Linked DNA regions of Homo sapiens: regions 2, 3 and 4 are each reported to be linked to region 1. Evidence: microRNA targets listed by miRTarBase, many of them from high-throughput screens and not tested one by one. Region 1 holds a microRNA gene; each other region holds the end of a gene's coding sequence.
Evidence for each region. Region 1 holds the annotated microRNA hsa-miR-146a-3p (CCUCUGAAAUUCAGUUCUUCAG, at 2,884-2,905, shown strand). A microRNA usually pairs through its seed, bases 2 to 8, with sites in the 3' UTR of a target mRNA and lowers its output. Matches are read on the target gene's strand: a 7mer-m8 pairs with bases 2 to 8, a 7mer-A1 pairs with bases 2 to 7 and ends in A, and an 8mer does both.

Region 2: miRTarBase lists SLFN5 as a target of hsa-miR-146a-3p. Seed matches in the 3' UTR shown: 7mer-A1 at 1,075-1,081 and 7mer-m8 at 1,879-1,885.
Region 3: miRTarBase lists ZFP1 as a target of hsa-miR-146a-3p. Seed matches in the 3' UTR shown: 8mer at 1,497-1,504.
Region 4: the mRNA of MNT is a reported target of hsa-miR-146a-3p. Seed matches in the 3' UTR shown: 7mer-m8 at 2,974-2,980.

The regions. Positions count from the first base shown.
Region 1 is chr5:160,482,525-160,487,675 of GRCh38, forward strand. MIR146A (microRNA 146a) reads left to right here and starts at 2,828; the gene lies at 2,828-2,926. MIR3142HG (MIR3142 host gene) reads left to right here. Exons shown (of 2, transcript NR_132748.1): 2 at 2,775-4,902.
Region 2 is chr17:35,265,062-35,270,212 of GRCh38, forward strand. It overlaps SLFN5 (schlafen family member 5), which reads left to right. Exons shown (of 5, transcript NM_144975.4): 5 at 11-5,151. The coding sequence ends at 827. Among named protein-coding and RNA genes, the nearest start is that of SLFN5, 25 kb to the left of the region's middle.
Region 3 is chr16:75,169,807-75,174,957 of GRCh38, forward strand. ZFP1 (ZFP1 zinc finger protein) reads left to right here. Exons shown (of 4, transcript NM_153688.4): 4 at 1-2,428. The coding sequence ends at 528. Among named protein-coding and RNA genes, the nearest start is that of ZFP1, 24 kb to the left of the region's middle.
Region 4 is chr17:2,382,374-2,387,520 of GRCh38, reverse strand. MNT (MAX network transcriptional repressor) reads left to right here. Exons shown (of 6, transcript NM_020310.3): 6 at 1-3,448. The coding sequence ends at 620. Among named protein-coding and RNA genes, the nearest start is that of MNT, 16 kb to the left of the region's middle. RefSeq lists enhancers at 714-1,538, 4,491-4,700.

The DNA.
Region 1 (5,151 bases):
AATCAAAACCGTAGTGAGATACCACTTCACACCTACTAGGATAACTATACTCAAAAGATAGACATTAACAAGTATTGGCAAGATGTGGAGAAACTGGAACCCTCATACACTGCTGGTGGAATTGTAAAATAGTGTGGCCGCTTTGGAAAACAGTCTGGCCATTCATCAACTGATAGCCATAGAGTTAACATATGACACAGAAATTCCACACTTAGGTATACGTCTGTGAAAGGAAAATAGATCTCAGAACTCCCAAAATCACTAAGCCAAAGGGAAGTCAAACTGGGAACTGTGTGAGGCAAACCTGCCTCCCATTTTATTCCTACGTAAGCTAGCTACAAAGATAAAAAAGCTACATACCTCCCTCACAATTTGCCCACTAGGAAATTCCTTGTGGACAAAGGACAGACAGAATTCAGTCATTCTTTTGCTCATGTGAGACCAATGCATATCTGATTGCTTCTTCTGCCCTATTATTTCACTAAGCCAGACTAAGGAATAAGTGACTATTCCTCTACCCTCCTCTCACATGTAAATTGTGTATTCAGTAAAAGGCTAACCAGAGACAAAAAAATGCAACAGTTTGTCTTGTATCTACCTATGATCTGGAAGCCCCCACCCCTGCTTCTAGTTGTCCCAGCTCTCCAGACTGAACCAATGTACATCTTACATATACTGATTGATGTCTCATGTTTCCCTATAATGTATAAAACCAAGCTGTGCCCCGACCACCTTGGGCACAATGTTGTCAGGACCTTCTGAGGCTGTGTGACAGGCATGTTCTTAACCTTGGCAAAATAAACTTCCTAAATGGATTCAGGTCTGTCTCAGATACTTTTGGGTTCACACATCCATGAGAAATGCAAACATATGTCCATACAAAACTTGTACATGGGTATTCATTCATAGAAGCATCAAATAGGCAAAAGGTAGCAACAACCCAAATGCCCATCAGCTGATGAATGGATAAATGAAATGTGGTAGATCCTAACGATGGAATATTATTCATCCATAGGAAGGATGTACTGATACGCATTAAAACATGGATATATCCTGAAAGCTAAGTGAAAGAAGCCAGTCACAAAAGGCCGCTGATTATATGATTTCATTTATATAAGATGTCCAGCATATATATAGACAGAACGTAGATCAGTGATTCCCCAGGGGTGAGGGAGGGGAATGGAGATTGACTGTTAATGGTTATGGGATCTATTTTGGGGATGATGAAAATGTTCTGGAATTGATTATGATGGTTGTACAACTCTGCAAAATACTAAAAACCAATGCATTTTTTACTTTAAATAGGTAAATTTTCTGGTGTGTGAGCTATATAGCTATAGCTCAATAAGGCTATTATATACTTATTTTATTTTATTATTATTTTTTAGAGACAGAGTCTCGCTTTGTCACCCAGCCTGGAGTGCAGTTGTGCAATCTTAGCTCACTGCAACCTCTGCCTCCTGGGTTCAAGTGATTCTTCTGCCTCAGCCTCCCAAGTAGCTGGGACTACAGGTGTGCGCCACCATGCCTGGCGAATTTTTGTATTTTTGTTAGAGACGGGGTTTCACCATGTTAGCCAAGTGAAACTTGAACTCCTGACCTCAGGTGATCTGCCTGCCTCAGCCTCCCAAAGTTCCGAGATTACAGGTGTGAGTCACCACATCTCGCCTATATACATATTTAAAAAACACTAGCATGGTCTCTATGCTTATGGAAAACAGTCTTGTTGGAGAGATAATTTTAATCAAATAATTATACAAAATTATCTAACAATTACAAATTACGGTGAAGGAAAGAATCCCATATTATGAAAGAGACTAGCTGGAGGCTGATGGTGAGGGAGTGGTAGGTAAACATTCAAGTGCTCTTACAGAGATCCCCAAGTAACAGTGGCTTAAATAAGGTAAATGTTCCATTCTTGCTGATCTATCAGTGCAGGTGTAAGCAGTCTAGGGTGTATAAGGAAGCCTCACACTTTTGGGGCTCTTCTGGCATGCTGCTCTGCTGTTCCCTGGGGGGCTGCACTCATTTGCATGGTCCACAGTGGCTCTCTACCATGTCTACAGTCCAAGCCTGAGAAGAGGGAGGGAAACAGTAAAAAACTCTCCACTCCTGCTCATATCCAGCACTTTGTCACACCAGGTGAGGAAACAAAGTCAGATGTCCATGTGTTCAGATACCACTTAAGGGTTCTATTAGTATAGAAGGAGGAGAGAATATATATTGGGCAAACAATCAGCAATCTCTGCCATAGATGGCCTCTCTGAGGAAGTGACATTGAAAGCAAGAACATCAGGATAAGTTGATGTTAAAGAGAGGAACGAGTTTTCCAGGCCAGAGGGATGGCATATGGAAGGGTCATGAGGCAGGAAAGGCCAGCTACCATGTTTAATGATGCTTAATGATGTGTGTGTCTACCATACACATCCCCTACAGATTAGTTTTTGTTTTGACAGGGTCTCTCTCTGTGGCCCAGACTGGAGTGCAGTGGTGCAATCATAGCTCACTGCAACCTCCAATTCCCAGGCTCAAGCGATCCTCCCACCACAGGCCATCATGCATGGCTCATTTTTTATTTTTAGTAGAGACAAATTCTCCATGTTGCCCAGGCTAGTCCTGAACTCCTGGGCTCAAGAGATCCACCCACATCAGCCTTCCAGACTGCTGGCCTGGTCTCCTCCAGATGTTTATAACTCATGAGTGCCAGGACTAGACCTGGTACTAGGAAGCAGCTGCATTGGATTTACCAGGCTTTTCACTCTTGTATTTTACAGGGCTGGGACAGGCCTGGACTGCAAGGAGGGGTCTTTGCACCATCTCTGAAAAGCCGATGTGTATCCTCAGCTTTGAGAACTGAATTCCATGGGTTGTGTCAGTGTCAGACCTCTGAAATTCAGTTCTTCAGCTGGGATATCTCTGTCATCGTGGGCTTGAGGACCTGGAGAGAGTAGATCCTGAAGAACTTTTTCAGTCTGCTGAAGAGCTTGGAAGACTGGAGACAGAAGGCAGAGTCTCAGGCTCTGAAGGTATAAGGAGTGTGAGTTCCTGTGAGAAACACTCATTTGATTGTGAAAAGACTTGAATTCTATGCTAAGCAGGGTTCCAAGTAGCTAAATGAATGATCTCAGCAAGTCTCTCTTGCTGCTGCTGCTACTCGTTTACATTTATTGATTACTTACGATGATTCAGGTACTGTTGTAAGTGCTTTACATGCTGTTATACGAGACTCTTGGGAGAAATCACTTTAATGAAGCTTGAGACACATGGCATTGCCATGCAATGATTTTTCCCCCCTCTTCACGGGATCAGAGGGAACTAATAGAATGTGACAATGATTCTTTAGCAGGGACTGCTGAGGCTTCTGGTTCCTTTTTAAGATCTGCAGTGAAAGAAGATGAGAAACATGGATATGCCCTTCTTTTGGTCCCCCTCTTCCTTTATTTGATCTCTACTTCCTTCTATAAATATATTAGGGCTACATTGTCCCTTTGTATTTCAAACAAGGCAAAAAGAGGTTGTAATTACACTTTACTGCAATCCTCAGTTTCTCCAGGGAACAGGAATGCAAAGGCTTTGAAGGCCTCTCTATTTGCTGACATGGTCAGCTGGGTGCCATGGGCCAAGTCCTTCTGTTGCCCTCCTCTGTCACCAAGTAAGCTAGGTCCTTTCTGAGGCTCAGGTTTGCTGTGATGATGATCACTTTTAGGCAGAAGGTTAGAGGCCTCATGAGTGCTATATGGACTTTATTAGGCTTTAGATTTGATGGGGAATAAGGGATGTGATTTGTCTTTTGGGAACTCATCTTTGATTCATCATTGTCTCTTGGTATCTTGGAATTTCCATGTCATTACAGTCTACAGAATGAAAGAGTAACCTGTCCCAGAGGAGAGGCAGGTGAAAGACTCCACAGCATGCTCATTCTCATTCTGTCTTCTCAGTGACACCGAGGTTTACTGAGTGCCCACTATGTGCCAAGCACTGTGCTCAGGGCTTTCTTTGTATGCATGATCTCAGTGAATCTCACCAAGCCTCATCTGGAAAACGGGGACAAATTAACAACAGGATGGCAAATTGAAAAACACGTAACCATGTTCTACAGATGGAAAGGGGTGCTTGGTTATTATGAAGGCCCCCTCGCAAGCGTGTGGGACATGGGTGTGTTCTCTGGGTTGTACTGATCAGATCAAGGACCTCCCCCACCCTTCTCACACTCTGCCCACTTCCGCCCTTTGCTTATCAGACCCTTAGCCAGTGACTCATTCCAGAACCAGAACCTTGGTGAAATCTCAACCGACACCAGAGATCGGTGTCTTCAGTCCTAGACTGATGGAGAAAATCCAGAATATATACTAGAAGCTCCAAATGCTCTGGGTTTCAGCTCCTCTGTGCTGTGGACACTGACTTTGGCTCAGAACTCCGATTTAGTACAAAAGGCTCATTTTTATTTCAGGGGCACTCTTCCTAAAGCAAACCTAATAAATGAAATATGGAATTCACAGATACACACACACATTAAAAAATTAACCTAGTGTATCTGTGAGGAGTAGGCAGAAATTCACTGTATAAAAGAATGCTTCATTTCATAGAGAATTTGTGTTAAGATTCCATTAGATAGTACATTTCTCAAAGATTTTTGAGGTTGTATTTGCTTTACCAAAACTTGGTTTATGTAAGTGGAAAAAGCATGTTGCAAAATAACTTGGTGTCTATGATTCAGTTTATGTAAAATAATAAATGTATGTAGGAATACGTGTGTTGAAAGATGTACATCAATTTGCTAACAATGGTTATCTCTGACGTGGTGGGATTTGAGATGTGTTTTTCTTTTTGGTTGTATTTTTCTCTATTGTTTGACTTAACACAGAACATGTTTGGTTACAACAATAAAGTTATTGAAGACAATATAACACCCAATTGTGATGAGTCCAGACAGTACTCATGCTGTGCATTTATTAGACAGTATGCCATAGAGGTGGGTCATGGAGGAGTGGAGAGAGAGCCCTGATTTGTTGTCCCATGAAGAAGATAGGCACAGGGTAATATGTAGTGTGATTCTTTTTTTTTTTGCACGAGGAGAAGTGTGTGTGTATCCGTGTAAGTGTATGGATATCCAGTGGGTAGTGGGTGTTAAGATTGCAAGTGATTTTTTTC
Region 2 (5,151 bases), not on the chromosome of region 1:
TTTCTTACAGTTTCAGCAAGAAAAACATCTGCCAGCCAGTGACCCGGAAAACCTTCATGAAAAACAACTTTGAACACATCCAGCACATTATCATTGATGACGCTCAGAATTTCCGTACTGAAGATGGGGACTGGTATGGGAAAGCAAAGTTCATCACTCAGACAGCAAGGGATGGCCCAGGAGTTCTCTGGATCTTTCTGGACTACTTTCAGACCTATCACTTGAGTTGCAGTGGCCTCCCCCCTCCCTCAGACCAGTATCCAAGAGAAGAGATCAACAGAGTGGTCCGCAATGCAGGTCCAATAGCTAATTACCTACAACAAGTAATGCAGGAAGCCCGACAAAATCCTCCACCTAACCTCCCCCCTGGGTCCCTGGTGATGCTCTATGAACCTAAATGGGCTCAAGGTGTCCCAGGCAACTTAGAGATTATTGAAGACTTGAACTTGGAGGAGATACTGATCTATGTAGCGAATAAATGCCGTTTTCTCTTGCGGAATGGTTATTCTCCGAAGGATATTGCTGTGCTTTTCACCAAAGCAAGTGAAGTGGAAAAATATAAAGACAGGCTTCTAACAGCAATGAGGAAGAGAAAACTGTCTCAGCTCCATGAGGAGTCTGATCTGTTACTACAGATCGGTGATGCGTCGGATGTTCTAACCGATCACATTGTGTTGGACAGTGTCTGTCGATTTTCAGGCCTGGAAAGAAATATCGTGTTTGGAATCAATCCAGGAGTAGCCCCACCGGCTGGGGCCTACAATCTTCTGCTCTGTTTGGCTTCTAGGGCAAAAAGACATCTGTATATTCTGAAGGCTTCTGTGTGACAGGAAACCCAAGCCTAAGAAACAATTAAGTGGTTCTCATCTCTAATTAACTGTGAAACCATTTAATCCAAACATGTAAGCACACACTCACTTATTAAGTCACATACTTTTCTAGGTGCTGGGGATTGAGAACGAATCGATGTAAGATTCCTCCTTTAGGGCAGAGACAGACCACTGACAAATACACAGATAGACAAGGAATTTCCCATGGTAAAAAGGGATATCAGTAATTAGAGGACCGTGAGACTCAGAGATGTGTGTGTGTGTGTGTGTGTGTGTGTGTGTGTGTGCGCGCGCGCACGTGCACATGTGTGTAGGTAGATGGAGGGGGTGATTATTTTGGGTGGTCAGGGAAGTGCTCAGTGAGGGAAGAACTTGTCATGAGAATCTCTGAGCGTGCCAGGCAGACTCGGATATTTTTATAAATTTTTAACATGGCCACTTGCAGAAGAGCTTGAATGGGACGTGCAGCGAGAATGTGAAGGATGGAGCAGGTAGCTCATCTGGCCTTGTAGGTGCCGGGAACGGGCAAGACATGTTTTGAAATGTAAGATCACAGACTGTTTTTTGCAAGACCACATTATATTACTTTATTATTTTCTGCTTTTTCTTTTAACGACATTAGTGTTTTTGATCACTATATTTTAAAATGCTTTTTGTGAGCCTTTTGGTTATGTGGAATCTGTTCCTTAGCTCTGATTTTTTATTCTTATGGAGCGTCTTAGGTTACTACATGAAGGTAAGACTGCCACAGTCCCCCAGGGAGGCACACTGTGTTTTACTGATTGATTTGAAGATGATAGAGAGCCTAGGGGGATGAGTCTATTGGACTCAAAGGTTACATTTTGTTTTTCCATTTAATTTAATAATCAACAAAACGACAAAGTCAGTTTAATATCTTTCTTCTGCTGAGTCTTCAGGATGTTAGCTAGTCTTTCAAAAGCCATTGCTACAAAAGTGCAAATTTCTCATTTCCTGTGGGTCTCTAGAAACTCTCTCAATATTTAAAGCCAAACAAATCCATCTTTTCTGAGAGACAGAAACTAAAAAATTCAGAGTTAATTCACTATTAAAAACAGCAAGGCCCTGCTATTTCCCAAGAATAAAGAAATTTAAAATTCTCATTGTAAGAAGTATGAACTTGAAGCTAGAATTGGTTTATTTCTGGCAGCTACTTACAATATTAAGAACTTTACTTTTTAAATTTGAGACAATTTCACAGGAAAGCAAGAAATTAGTCTATTGTGAAATGTTTTTACAACTAACTTGGAATATACTGCAAATCACTAGTAAGTAGAGACACATTTAAGATAAAATGATTAATAAAACAATTGGTAATTCTGAATAAGGATCTGAATAAATCCAGATCACAGACTGTTCCTTTACCAATATGTAAAAGAATGTGCAAAATTAGTAAAAATATACCCAAAAATTTACCAGCAACAGAGAAGCAAAGAATGGAGTTCAACCTTACACTATAAACATCTAATAGATATGTATGAAAATTTAAAAACTAGAAAAGGTTGGGCATGGTGGCTCATGCTTGTGATCCCAGGACTTTAGGAGGCCAAGGTGGGAGGATTGTTTGAGCCCAGGAGTTCAAGACCAGCTTGAGCAATATAGTGAGACCCTGTCTCTACAAAAACAAACAAACAAACAAACAAATAAATAAATAAATAAAATTAGCTGGGAATGGTGATGCACACCTGGAGTCCTAGCTACTCAGAAGGCTGAGGCAGGACGATCACTTGACCTCAGAAGTCTGAGGTTACAGTGAGCTATGATCATACCAGTGCACTCCAGTCTGGGTGACAGAACAAGACCCTGTCTCCAAAAATTAAATAAATAAAACAAAAAAAAAGAATTTAAAAGTTTTATATAAAGGCATAGCTACTATCTCATCTGCCCAGTGTAGTCATGAATAGATGTCACATAAAGAAAAGAAAACCAGAATTCTTGTTAATATGGCCAGTTTGAAGGGTGGTGGCGGAGGTATTGAGCAGGCAGCTCAGGGAAATGCCAGGGAGACCCTTGAGCACAGAAACTCCTGATTGTCCCCAGGGACTCTCCGTGGACACAGGAGGGATTTTCCAGGATTTCACATGAATTCAATGAAGGGGGCTGTGTCTTATTCCTGGATGCTTTGCCTCCTTCATGGAATTCAGTGGATTTAATGGAAGTTCCTAGGCAACAATAAAGAGTAGAAACCAGGTTAACAGCGAGGGCCTCATCTCACACCAGATCATATCAGGCTACACAAAAGTAGATGGAAGACACCACCCAGGCCTCCAGCTATACACTGGAGAAGAAGCCAAACTAGTCTACTTCATCTAAGAAAGTTGTCAAAGAGAGCCCTTCTATACTATCTTAAGGTAAAAAGAAAGACTCTACCCAGCTGCCCTGATTAAGCATTAGAAAGATAAGTGTTCTGATCATTAGGCGAAAGACAATGGGGAAAAATGTAGAAAAGAAATATGACATGAGCCAGATGAAGAACCCATCCTGAAAGGATATATAACTCAGGGGACAAAAGACAACTCACCATAAGTTGGGCGCAGTGGATCACGCCTGTAATCTCAGCATTTTGGTAGGCCAAGGCAGGTGGATCACCTGAGGTCAGGAGTTCAAGTCCAGCCTGGCCAACGTGGTGAAATCCTGTCTCTACTAAAAATACAAAAATTAGCTGGGTGTGGTGGTGCATGCCTGTAATACCAGCTACTCAGAAGGCTGAGGCAAGAGAATTGCTTGAATCAAGGAGGCAGAGGTTACAGTGAGCCAAGATCAGGCCATTGTACTTCAGCCTGGGCGACAAAGTGAGACCCTGTCTCAAAAAACAAACAAAGCCTCCCCATAGATGTCTCCTGCCATAGAAGAATTTAAGAAGTTCATAAATTCAATAAAACAAGAGTTGAAGGCCTGTCCCACTGTACCCAATTTCTCCCTCTCTGAACTGCAGCCTAGAAACTCTCTACAGGCAGTAAGCTGGGGCAGTCACAGAGGTGACCTCATCTGTTTCCCACATCCTGCATTAGGACAGTGATCAGGGATCAGTATCCTTCATTGACTGATTTCCAATATCTCGAGACCTGTTGTTTCATATATTTTGCCTTATTTTGCAATTGTTTCATATATTTTGTCTTATTTTGCAATTGTTTCAGGAGGGAGGATAAATATGGTCCCTGTTCCTCTATCTTGACCAGAAGCATCTAAGAAGGCAGTGAAGCAACATGTGTACAGTTCTTAGGGAAACAAATTTTGACCTAAAAATATTAAACCTAGTCAAAATATTATTCTAGTACAAAGGCAGCACATGGGTATTTTTGAACATAAAAGAGTTCTAGAAATACAGGACCCATGAATCATTCTTGAAGAAAAGTTACTCAGTAAGGAAATCTAGCTAAGCAAGCAACATGTACAAATAAAAGATTATTATAATTGGACCAAAGTTAAGTTTAAATCCATTCACATGTATATAATTAAGATATATAGGAATTATAATTACAGAAAAGAATGTTACAAACCTTCACAAAGTAAAAATATTTTTATATCAGATAGATTCTTCTGTTTCAATCCATAAAACCAGGGTTTGGATCATTTTAAAAAAACAAACAAAAATAATTTATTGGAATCATTAGGGAGGACCTGATAGAATAAAATGACAAGCTGACCAAATAGGCCTTAGAAGGGAGAGGTGCCTGGGCAGTTACAAGGACCTAGGTAGCAGGGGTGACTTGGCCACAGTCATTTTCTTTACTTGATTTAAGGAGGTTAAATTACAGTGAGAGAGTTGCACTTATTTAGTTTGCATACCGTACTCAACTCTTAGCTAGCATAGGGCAGGTTCCTTAGTTGAAAAATTTCCACAAAACATGATGTAAAGTGGAAAGATCAGTTCCCCCAAAGAATATCAGTTACCAAAGTAGGATGAAAGGATGTTGGGTAGATCAAAACAACAAATGTCCATTACAGCAATTAACAAAAGTTAGGGAGTGGGGAAGTCTGAGTGCTAATATGGATTTCAAAACAACTTTAAAAATGGCTTCAAACATTTTATGCTTTTTGTAATTTAGTCATTTTAATATTAGATAAATCTTCCTGTAACTGAAAGTTCTTGAGTTAAAGAAAAATATTCGGTAGTTCAGCTCTTCCTTCAATTTTATTAGTTGCTTTTTCTTTTGTTCAAGTGAAATAAACATAAAAATAATTTTAAAATATTATGTATCATATCCTTCGATTTAACATAATTCTATCTAGCTGTTCTTATATTTTCTCTGATATATTTTTAAAAGCTTTCTGGAATATTATTAACCTTGAATATTTCTAG
Region 3 (5,151 bases), not on the chromosome of region 1:
ATTCACACTGGGGAGAAACCTTTCGAGTGTCCGGAATGTGGAAAAGCTTTCACCCACCAGTCAAACCTCATTGTACACCAGAGAGCACATATGGAGAAGAAGCCCTATGAGTGCAGTGAATGTGGAAAGACATTTGCCCAAAAGTTTGAACTCACCACACACCAGAGAATTCATACAGGAGAGCGACCCTATGAGTGTAACGAATGTGCAAAAACCTTCTTTAAGAAGTCAAACCTTATCATACATCAGAAGATTCACACGGGGGAGAAACGCTATGAGTGCAGTGAATGTGGAAAATCCTTTATCCAGAACTCACAGCTCATCATACACATGAGAACTCATACAGGAGAGAAACCCTATGAATGTACTGAGTGCGGCAAAACTTTCAGCCAGAGGTCAACTCTTAGATTACACTTGCGAATCCACACAGGAGAGAAACCATATGAGTGTTCCGAATGTGGGAAGGCCTTTAGCAGGAAGTCCCGACTCAGTGTCCATCAGAGAGTTCACATCGGGGAGAAACCCTGAAACTCCAGCCAGGTCTTACTGTGGAAAACTCCTGCCAGAACTCTTCAAGCGGGTGAAAAACCTCATGACAGTATTGAGGGAACATGGGAATTCATACTGAGATGCAATCTCTCAACTCAAAAATGTATTAAAAATAGGATCCCATGAGAACATTATACTGGAAGTTACATGTGATACCCAGCTAAAGAATACATATCAGAATATATCCAGTTGTAAATAGCCATACCCAGTTGTACTACAATGAGCTTTTTAAAATCTTGAATGAATTGAGTATTCTAGACAGCAGCATAAGAAATATACAAACAGTATCCTATGAATTTAGTGGTTTTATGTGGATATGCCACAAAACACAAGTGGTATGCTTTAGATCTGCACATGTGAATTTAGCATAATCACTGGGAATTTGAAATTCTTGTCCTCTGTGATAATTAGGACATAACAAGATTTTCCATACTAAACATCACATGTGTTTTTCAGTATCTCTGCAATCCAGTATGCATTCCAAATGAAATGTGTAACATTTAAAGTAGCATGGAACCTACGTCTTTCCCTACTGCTTGCTGGCATATATCAGTTGGTATGAACATTGTTCTTGAGCTGCCTCTTAGGAAACAGAAGACAGTGTTGAAGTTTTCCCTGCTTCTGGTTTGCTGAAGATTTTCTAGAAGCACTATTTACACAAATATGCAAATGTGAAATAACCGATCTATAACGTGAAGGAGGCAGACATGAGCTGTACTACTCAGTATGCACCACAGAATAAGAGTTTGCCGTGTAAAGACAATATCCCCATTCGTCATGCTCTTATTTTCCCGTGGGATATTTGCATACAAATGCATGTCTGTTACCAAAATATTGTGTAACACAGACAGAAACCACCTGTTTTTGTCTTTCCTTGTTTCCCTTAATATTTCATGAATTGTCTAGCAAAAATGGTAGGATGCTTCTGTAGTTCACAAATGTTACATTTCAGAGACTTTAGAGGAAAAATTATTTTAAATAACTGTCAACTGTTTCATTGCTTTTTAAATTTTTCACGTGCATAACCCCCTTTAGAAGTAAATTTTTACACTATTTTGTTGTTTAAAGGAGGCATTTCTACTTCCTTGAGTTTTGCTGTTGCCAACCTAAAACATTTCCCTTTGGAACATGAGTTATAAGTTATTACTTTTCCTTTACATGTTTACACTTTTATAAAAATCAGATTTTTCAGTGGTCTCTCCAGATATTAACAAGAATTGTTGTGTAACTCAAAGATTTGCTTTTATAGACTTGATTTCAAATTCTTAAGTTCAGCCTTTCCCTATCAATCACAAATCATGTATTGGAAATTATAAATGGCAACCAAAAACTGGCTTTTAAAAAATATTTTTGGATATCATTGATGTGCTGTCACACTATATATTGAGTGACTTTCTGAACAAATTTATCCAGAACATCCATAGCCCAATAAGCTTTTGTCTAAGTTGTCATCTTACTTACTCACAAAGGAGGGGAAAACGTTATTTTCATAGCTGCTTTTAGAAATGTAAATTGTAACAGCCTCCTTGGACAACATTGTGAGTCTGTTTTAACATTAATATACTCTTACAACCTAGGAATCTCCTGGGAATCTATCCCTAAGGAATAAAAAGCGCCAGCACTTAAGATTATATGTTTACTAATGTATATTGTATTTTTTGGTAAGGACCAAAAAAACAAACAAAAAAAAGACCATCAGTAAGGGAATGGATGAATAAATTGTGGTAAAAACATACCATGGCTGAATGGTATTTCCTTGAAAAGAATGTGTGGGAACAAACTCCAAACTTCTCTAGGTCAAATGAGGAAAGCAAGAGGGGAGAGAGAGAGTGTATGTGTGTGTGTAGCAGTTTTTATAAAATAAAGATAAACCCTTATATATGTGTGTCTTTGTATATGATTTTATGGGCCTGGTGAATAGAATTCCTTCCATTTTTAACCTGTGGACCTCACCAGCTTTATCAGTGAGGGCTTTAGCAGTAAACTGAATTAGCGCCTTATGAAAGGATGACTTGGAGAATGAGAGAAGGATTAAGGGAACAAACAACGGATGGTAAGGAATCCAGAGACCAGCAGTGCCAAGAAGCTGTTGTCTCCCTAGGGACCAAAGGAAGAAATGGTGTTTCAGAGCCCAGTGAGAGCCAAAATGTTGGAAGGTCTCTTTCCTGTAGGAGATAGAAAAATAAAAAGGAAGAGTGTCTCTTAAGTGGATGTTGAAGCTCTACAAAGATGCAGCTACTGTGAGAAACACAGAACTGTCAGGAAAGGGAGCAGAGGGGGAAAAGCCTCAGCTCTTTATTGCTGTCTCCTGAAGATGCCTCCATCAACTGAACCTAATCAGAAGCCCGGGTGATGCCGTCCTCCTGGGATAAAGCAGGGTAGAAAGATGGAGGATGGACCAGGAGGGGAAACAGCACAATCAGCAAATCTCCCATCTCAGTTTCAGCCTTGCTGGTCCGACTGTAATGAGGCTTTCCCAGAAGGACCCTTCTTCCCCTATGGTCATTCCAAGTGGCAACTGTTTGTCTCATGCCTCTTATGCGTTTAGAGGTAAGATGACTGACTCTGAAGCCCAATTTCAGAGGAAATAAAAATTTGGGAGTTGTCACAGGGATAATATTTTAAGCCATAAAGCTAGGTGAGATTACCTAGGAAAAAAAAGTATAAAGAATGTCAAGGACTGAGCCCCGAGCACTCACCCCAGTGTTTGCTGGGCAGGAACTGGCAAATGAAACTGAGAAGGAACCACCAGGGTTAGGGTGAAAACCAGTAGAGGGTGGTATCTGAAGCCAGCTGAAAACACTTATTTTGAAGTAGAAGAGTGGCCACTATATCAAATACTAATAATTTGTATGAAGTTGGATATATGCTGAGATTAACCATCAGTGAGGTCATTTTGAAAAAAACAGTTATAAAGGAGTGGTCAGGGTAAATCTAGGAGGATTCAAGATAAACTTGGAAACAGGAGCTGTGAATAAGGGGCCAAGTGTTAAGGACTGAAAAGTCTGAGATTTTGTCCTACTTGCAAGGTAACAAGTTAAGCTACCAGTTTCATGGATACTGGCAGAAGACATACTGTACTGACCTCGAATACACATTTGCTGGGTGGAGTTACAGGAGGGGAGGTCCAAGTTTAGGGAGCCTGAATCTTAAACAGTGGTCTAGAAGTAAATCTATCAAACCTTTGTCTAGAAGGAAGACATATTATACTGGATGCTAAACAAACTGTTGCTCTGGAGAACGGATTACCTATCTAAGGCTATTCATCCTGAAAACAGCCTGTAACAAAAGCCATCACCATATGTACTTGTAAGATAGTGAGAAACGTGAGAAACCCATGGAGAATTGTCTCCCAACACAGAGAAACGGATGGGTAACTGAAGAGATGGGGGCTTTTGAGGATTTTGGTGTTTTAAAATATTAGAAATTCTAGGATAAATTTATATACTCATGGGAACGATAAGTAGAAAAATTGACGCTGTACGAGAAGAGGAGGAGGAGAATGGACTAGAGCAGAGCCTGAGCAGGTGAAGACACTGGGATCCAGGGTACTAGTGAAGAGGTCAGACGCTGGAGCACCAACCAGGAGGAAGGCAGAGCGTGGGCAGAGAAGATGCTAGAGCTTGTGAGTGTTCTTGTCTGATTGCTTTTATTTCCACTGTTAAACTGAAAACATAGTTATTAGCTGAGAGTGAGGATGGTAGAGGTGGTGTGAGACGTTTGGGGGATAGGGAAGAGTGAAAAAATTAAGGAAATGTACGATACACTAAAGGCCCACTTGAGGTTAGTGGTCATGAGTTTAACATAACATCAATTGTCAGGGTTGTATGTTTTGTTCCAGCCACATTCAGCAGAGTTGGATTTAGCCTGGATTGACTGGTGTGAAATACATGAACCATGGGACTTAAGCTGATTAGGTGAAGAGTCACAACTTCAGAGAGGGAAATCAGCGGGAGTGGTTTCAGCAAGATGGCAGAATAGAACTTTCTAGCACTTGACTCCCTGCAGAAACATCAGTTTGAATAGCTTTCCATGCACAAAATTACCTTCACAAGAGCTAAAGAAACCAAGTAAGAGATCACAGCACCTGGGTATAGTGTAGAAATAAAGGATGCGGCCGGGCGCAGTGGCTCACGCCTATAATCCCAGCACTTTGGCAGGCCAAGGTGGGTGGGTCACCTGAGGTCAGGAATTTGAGACCAGCCTGGCCAACATGGCAAAACCCCGTCTCTACTAAAAATACAAAAATTAGCCGGGCATGGTGGTGCGTGCCTGTAATCCCGCCTACTAGGGGGGCTGAGGTAGGAGGATCGCTTGAACCTGGGAGGCTGAGGTTGCAGTGAGCTTAGATTGTGCCACTGCACTTCAGCCTGGGCAACAGAGCGAGACTCCATCTCAAAAAAAAAAAAAAAAAAAGGATGCATTGAAGAGGGCACGAAGGACAGTGTTACATTATTTTTATTACCTCTTCCCCAACCCCAGGCACCATAGTGTCAACAGAGACACCCTCCATACAGGGGAAAGAGAAGAAAGTGAACACTGGACTTTGCCTCCATCCCAAACACCTTCTCACCTGGGTAAAACTCAGAGCTAGGCAGGCCC
Region 4 (5,147 bases), not on the chromosome of region 1:
CTCTGCCTCCACACCCACACCCTCACCCCCACTCCGTGGCCCTACCTCCTGCCCACCTCCCCGTGCAGCAGCAGCAGCCACAGCAGAAGACCCCTCTGCCAGCCCCTCCTCCCCCACCGGCTGCCCCTGCCCAGACACTGGTGCCAGCTCCAGCCCATCTGGTGGCGACGGCTGGGGGTGGCTCCACGGTCATCGCCCACACAGCCACCACTCACGCTTCAGTCATCCAGACTGTGAACCACGTTCTGCAGGGGCCAGGCGGCAAGCACATCGCCCACATCGCCCCCTCGGCCCCCAGCCCTGCGGTGCAACTGGCGCCTGCCACACCCCCCATTGGGCACATCACTGTGCACCCTGCCACCCTCAACCATGTGGCCCACCTGGGCTCCCAGCTGCCCTTGTACCCGCAGCCCGTGGCAGTGAGCCACATCGCCCACACCCTCTCGCACCAGCAAGTCAACGGCACGGCCGGCCTGGGGCCCCCGGCTACTGTCATGGCAAAGCCGGCCGTGGGGGCTCAGGTGGTGCACCACCCCCAGCTGGTGGGCCAGACCGTGCTCAACCCTGTGACCATGGTCACCATGCCCTCCTTCCCAGTCAGCACACTCAAGCTGGCTTGAGGACGAGGCCACTCAGAGGCCCCCAGTGGGGACAGGGAGGGGGACCTGTCCCCCACTCTCTCACCCACCAGCTCCACACATTCCAGCCAGGCCCAGGCCAGCCCCCCCACCCACCCCCAGGCCTCCTAGGGGAAGGGGGTGCAAAGACTCTGAGCCAAGGGAGGGAAGGGCCACCCTGCTGCACTAGGACTTGGTAAGATGACTCTGAGAAAATGCGAGACTCTGATGGAATGTGCCACCTGTCCGGCCCAGTGCCAGCTCCAGTGCCGCTCCTGCTTCCCCTCCCTACCCTCGGAAATCAGTGCGATGTGGACGTCACGCTCCCTGACTTCTCCCCCGCCCTGCCCCGCCTTCGTGTGCTGCTGCTGCTATTGCTGTCTGGTGAGGTGGCCCAGGCCCCCGGCTTTCCTCCGGAGCCTCATGTTCTCTTCCCAGGCCTTTGGAGGGGAAATGGGGAAAGCAGAACTGAAGCCACTTGGCCCAGAAAGCTGCGGATTGGGGTGATAAGGGGCCTTGCTCTGAGCACAGGTGACAGATCATAGGAAGTGGCTGGTCTGGAGTCCCACCCGGACAGGTGGGGCCTCAGCCTGGGGCTCTCTGACCCGGTTGCAGTCACTGTGATTCGTTACCGTAGATACTACTTAAAATGATTCTCTACCAACAATAAACCAAACCCAGCCACTGCCAAGCTTCCTGTGCCCTCACCCCAATCCCTGCCACTGGGCTCTGGACCTCAGGAGGGCAGGCTGAGGTGGGGAAGGAGGGACTTGGCTGTCCTTCCCCTTCCCCGTCCCCTGCAGCCTGGGTCTGGATGGGAGGAGAGCCACTGGGCCCCTGTCCCCAGTCCCCAGTCCCCAGCCCTGGGCTTGGCTCTTGGCTTCCAGAAGGCAGCAAAGAGGGGCGCTGTCCTGCGTTCAGCCCCTGATCTCTGACCTCTGCTGAGTGCTGGGCACTGCTCCAAGGGACAGGTGGGCCTGGCGGCCTGTGGGTTTGGGTGCCTCCTGCAGTTTGGGAGACATGGACCAGCATCTGGTCTTGTTTCCAGGAGCATAGAAGCCACATCGTTGAGACATCAGGAAGGTAAAAACCCAGCGGCTTAGCCAAGCCCTAAGCCTGTCCCCAGACCAACCCTGGGACCTATACAGAACAGAGGGCCAGAGCTAGGGCTGCTGCTTCTGCTCCAGCCCCTTTGCCTCTGTCCTCCCATCCCCTCAACACCCTGCTTCTCCCGGGGACGCTTTTGAGTGGGCCCTGCCCGGGGAGCTGCAGAGCAGCAGCACCTTTCTCTGAGAAGAGGTCCTTGGTTGGGTCAAGGACAGGGCTGAGCGTGGAAGGGGGAGGAGTCAGGGGCTCTGTGTTAGGATGCGGCTTTCTCTGCCTCTGGGCAGCCTGCTTTGGCCTTTCCTTGTATGTGGGTGTTTATTACAAGTGGCTTTGTGTCAGACACGCTCGGCTCCCCACCTGGACACACACTCACCAGTGGCCTTTCAGTGTAGCGGGAGGAAGCCGGTGTCCCTGGATGTGAAGCTCACACTGATGGGCTGGGGCAGGGGCCTGGGCCGGCGAGGGGGCCGGGGGGAGGGGACAGAGCTGAGGATTTCCTGGAGTGCCCTGCAGGCACAGAGGAGGTCAGCAAAGGTCTTGAATAGATTTTCTCTGGAAATAAAGAATCCTTAGATGCCTAAAAATTCCCTTCCTGTTCCCTCCTGGTCCTGGACACCTCCCAGGGGACTGTTCCTTATTTCTCTCTCCTGGTGTGGGTAAAGGGACAGTTACAAACCAGGTCACCATCCTCAGAGGCTGAGCCCTGTACCCACCCCAGCACAGCCACCTCCGCCAGACCCCGTGGCTCTGGGAGAGCCAGCTTTGCTATTCCCATTGTGACAGCGATGGCAGGCCTGACCCACGGGGCAGTTAGAGCAGCCTCGTGGAGCTCGCCCCTCCCCTCAGCCTGCCCACCTCTCCCTGCATCCTGAGGCCAGTGGCCCCCGGGCCTGCACAGATACCTCATCATCCACCCGCTGCCCCTCCCCGTCCCTGTCCCCCAGCATCGGGGGCCTGCAAATCTAGTGCCGAATGACTATGTCCAGATTGGTGACGATGGGTGTTGCTGTTTTTCTTGTCGTTTGTGAACGCTGTGATGCTGTGTGCCCAAGTGGGCAGTCACCACCCAGCCCTTCCTTGGGCGTCTCCCCCAGAGTGCTGTCGGGACCACATCTGTCCTCACCCTGTGGGACCGCCTGGCCCTCCCTCCCTAGCCCTTCCAGCCTGGGACACACACACACACACACACACACACACACGCACGCACACGCACACATCTTACCTCTCATGCGTGTTTTACCTTTTGATGTTCAGAGTGGCTCACTGGCTGGGAGTCCTTACCTCGGGGAGAGGGGGAGGTTGGTTCCTTGGGGGGCCAAAGAAGGCAGGGAATGCCTGGAGGGTAACTGGGGGGCCACCATGACCCCTTCTCTCTCCAGAAACAGCTGCTTCTCCCCCCATCCCAGGGTCCCACCCCCAACCCCCAGAGGTGGCCCTTGTTTACAGTGAGGACTCGGCCACTGTGTCTCTGTTTCCTGAAATATAAACTGTAGCGACCCCAGACTGTAGAGATTTTTATGTGTTTGGATACATCTGCTGTGTGGAAAAAAAAAAAAACTACAAAAACCCTAATTTTGTACATACTGTATTTTTACTATTGAACTGTATTCTAGTGGCTGTTCATGCTCCAAGACTTTAGTTACCGAGACATGAATACTATCCATGTAATAAGCACTTGCCTGGAATAAAATATAAAACTGAAATAAACCTGCACTGAAACCTGAGATGGAGCTGCCAGCCTGCAGCATCTGGGTCATTTTATTGCAAAAGGAGGCTGAGGCCTGTAGGGAAGCATGTGGCAGGAGCGGTGAGATCACCTGTCTCGACCCTGTCTGCCCAGCATAGTCCTCAAGCGGCTCTGACCCGGTGCCTCCGCCGCTCTGAAAATGGCAGTTCTGGTCGGTCTGAAACTTTTGCAAAGCTTCGTATTTCCTCAGACCATTTTACAAGCATTATCTTGTTTCATCTTTCAACAGCCAAGTGAAGTAAATAAGCCAGACTTAGCCCCATTTTGGCAGATAAGGAAACAGGATTGAGGTGGCCCAGTGACTTGTTGAGGCCACACGGCTAGCTGGAGACTTCGTTGGAGCTGCAGTCAGACCTCTGAACTGGGTACAGAGTTCTTACCCAGCATCTGCCACCCTTGTGGCACCTGGGGCCAGTCCTAGACTCGGATCCAATAAAAAAGGTACAGGGGAGTTGCCCCAGGGATTGGGCACAGAGGGTGAGAGCTTCCTGAGGGGCTGCTCTGGGGGTGCAGTTACAACAGGTCAGCCGGGGAGTCCATAAAGCTGTCCTCTAAGGGAAAGGAACAAGGGGAAGAAGAGGCTGGAGGTCAGGGGCAAAGAGCCGTGTTCTCAGCTGGGCTGGAAGCCCCTTGTCCCTGTGGCTGTGTCTTCTCTCCCTGGGCAGGCTGTCATGGGAGGAGGTGGTGTGGGAAGTGAGGTCAGGGAGCCACTAGCTAGGCCTTGCTGGAGACCAGGCTGGGCAAGGGGGCCCAGCTTCTCATTTCCACCCTGACAGTACCTGACTGACTCCCAGTCCCCACAGGGGAGACTGACTCTGCGTCTCTTCCTGAGGTGGGGTGGGTAGGGGTTATCCTTGAGGAAGGGAGTGCTGTCTTGGGTCCTGTTTTCTGAAAGAGAAGAGTTGACTTCAAAAAGTTCAGGCCGGGCACGGTGGCACACGCCTGTAATCCCAGCACTTCGGGAGGCTTAGGTGGGCAGATCACCTGAGGTCTGGAGTTCGAGACCAGCCTGGCCAACATGGCAAAAACCCTTCTCTACTAAAAATACAAAAATGAGCCGGGCATGGTGGTGCATGCCTATGATCCCAGCTACTCAGGAGGCTGAGGCAGGAGAATCACTTGAACCCGGGGGGTGGAGGCTGCAGTGAGCCGAGATTGCGCCACTGCACTCCAGCCTGGGAGACAGAGCGAGACTCTGTCTCAAAAAAAATTTTTTTAATTAAAATGAAAGTTCGGAATCCAGCCCTCCCTACTGAGCCTGCCCTTTTTACTTGTGAGACGCGGGCTCCCTCTGCTGGTAGCTCCTGGAAGAGCTGGGTCACTTCCATTAGCTCACTAAGCGACGCTTTAGGGAAGGGATAGGGTGAGGGTTAACCCTTCCTGGGTGCATGCTCAGTGCCAGGCCCTGTGCCCACTGGGAACACAGATGAAGACCCTCCCCAGGCAGTGATAACTTGGCTGTCATCTGAGGGCTGTCACTAAATCTTTAGGCAGAAGCTGTACTCAAAGCTCCCCCTCACCCACAGTTCTCACTCACCCATGGCTCAGCTGGAGCTTATAAGAAAGGGGCCTGTGGTCAGGATAAAGTATGAATCCAGGTGCTTCCATTTACCAGCTCCTGCTCTGTAAGAGGAAGACCTGACTTTCCAGATTGCAAAGGTTCCTTGAGATGGTGT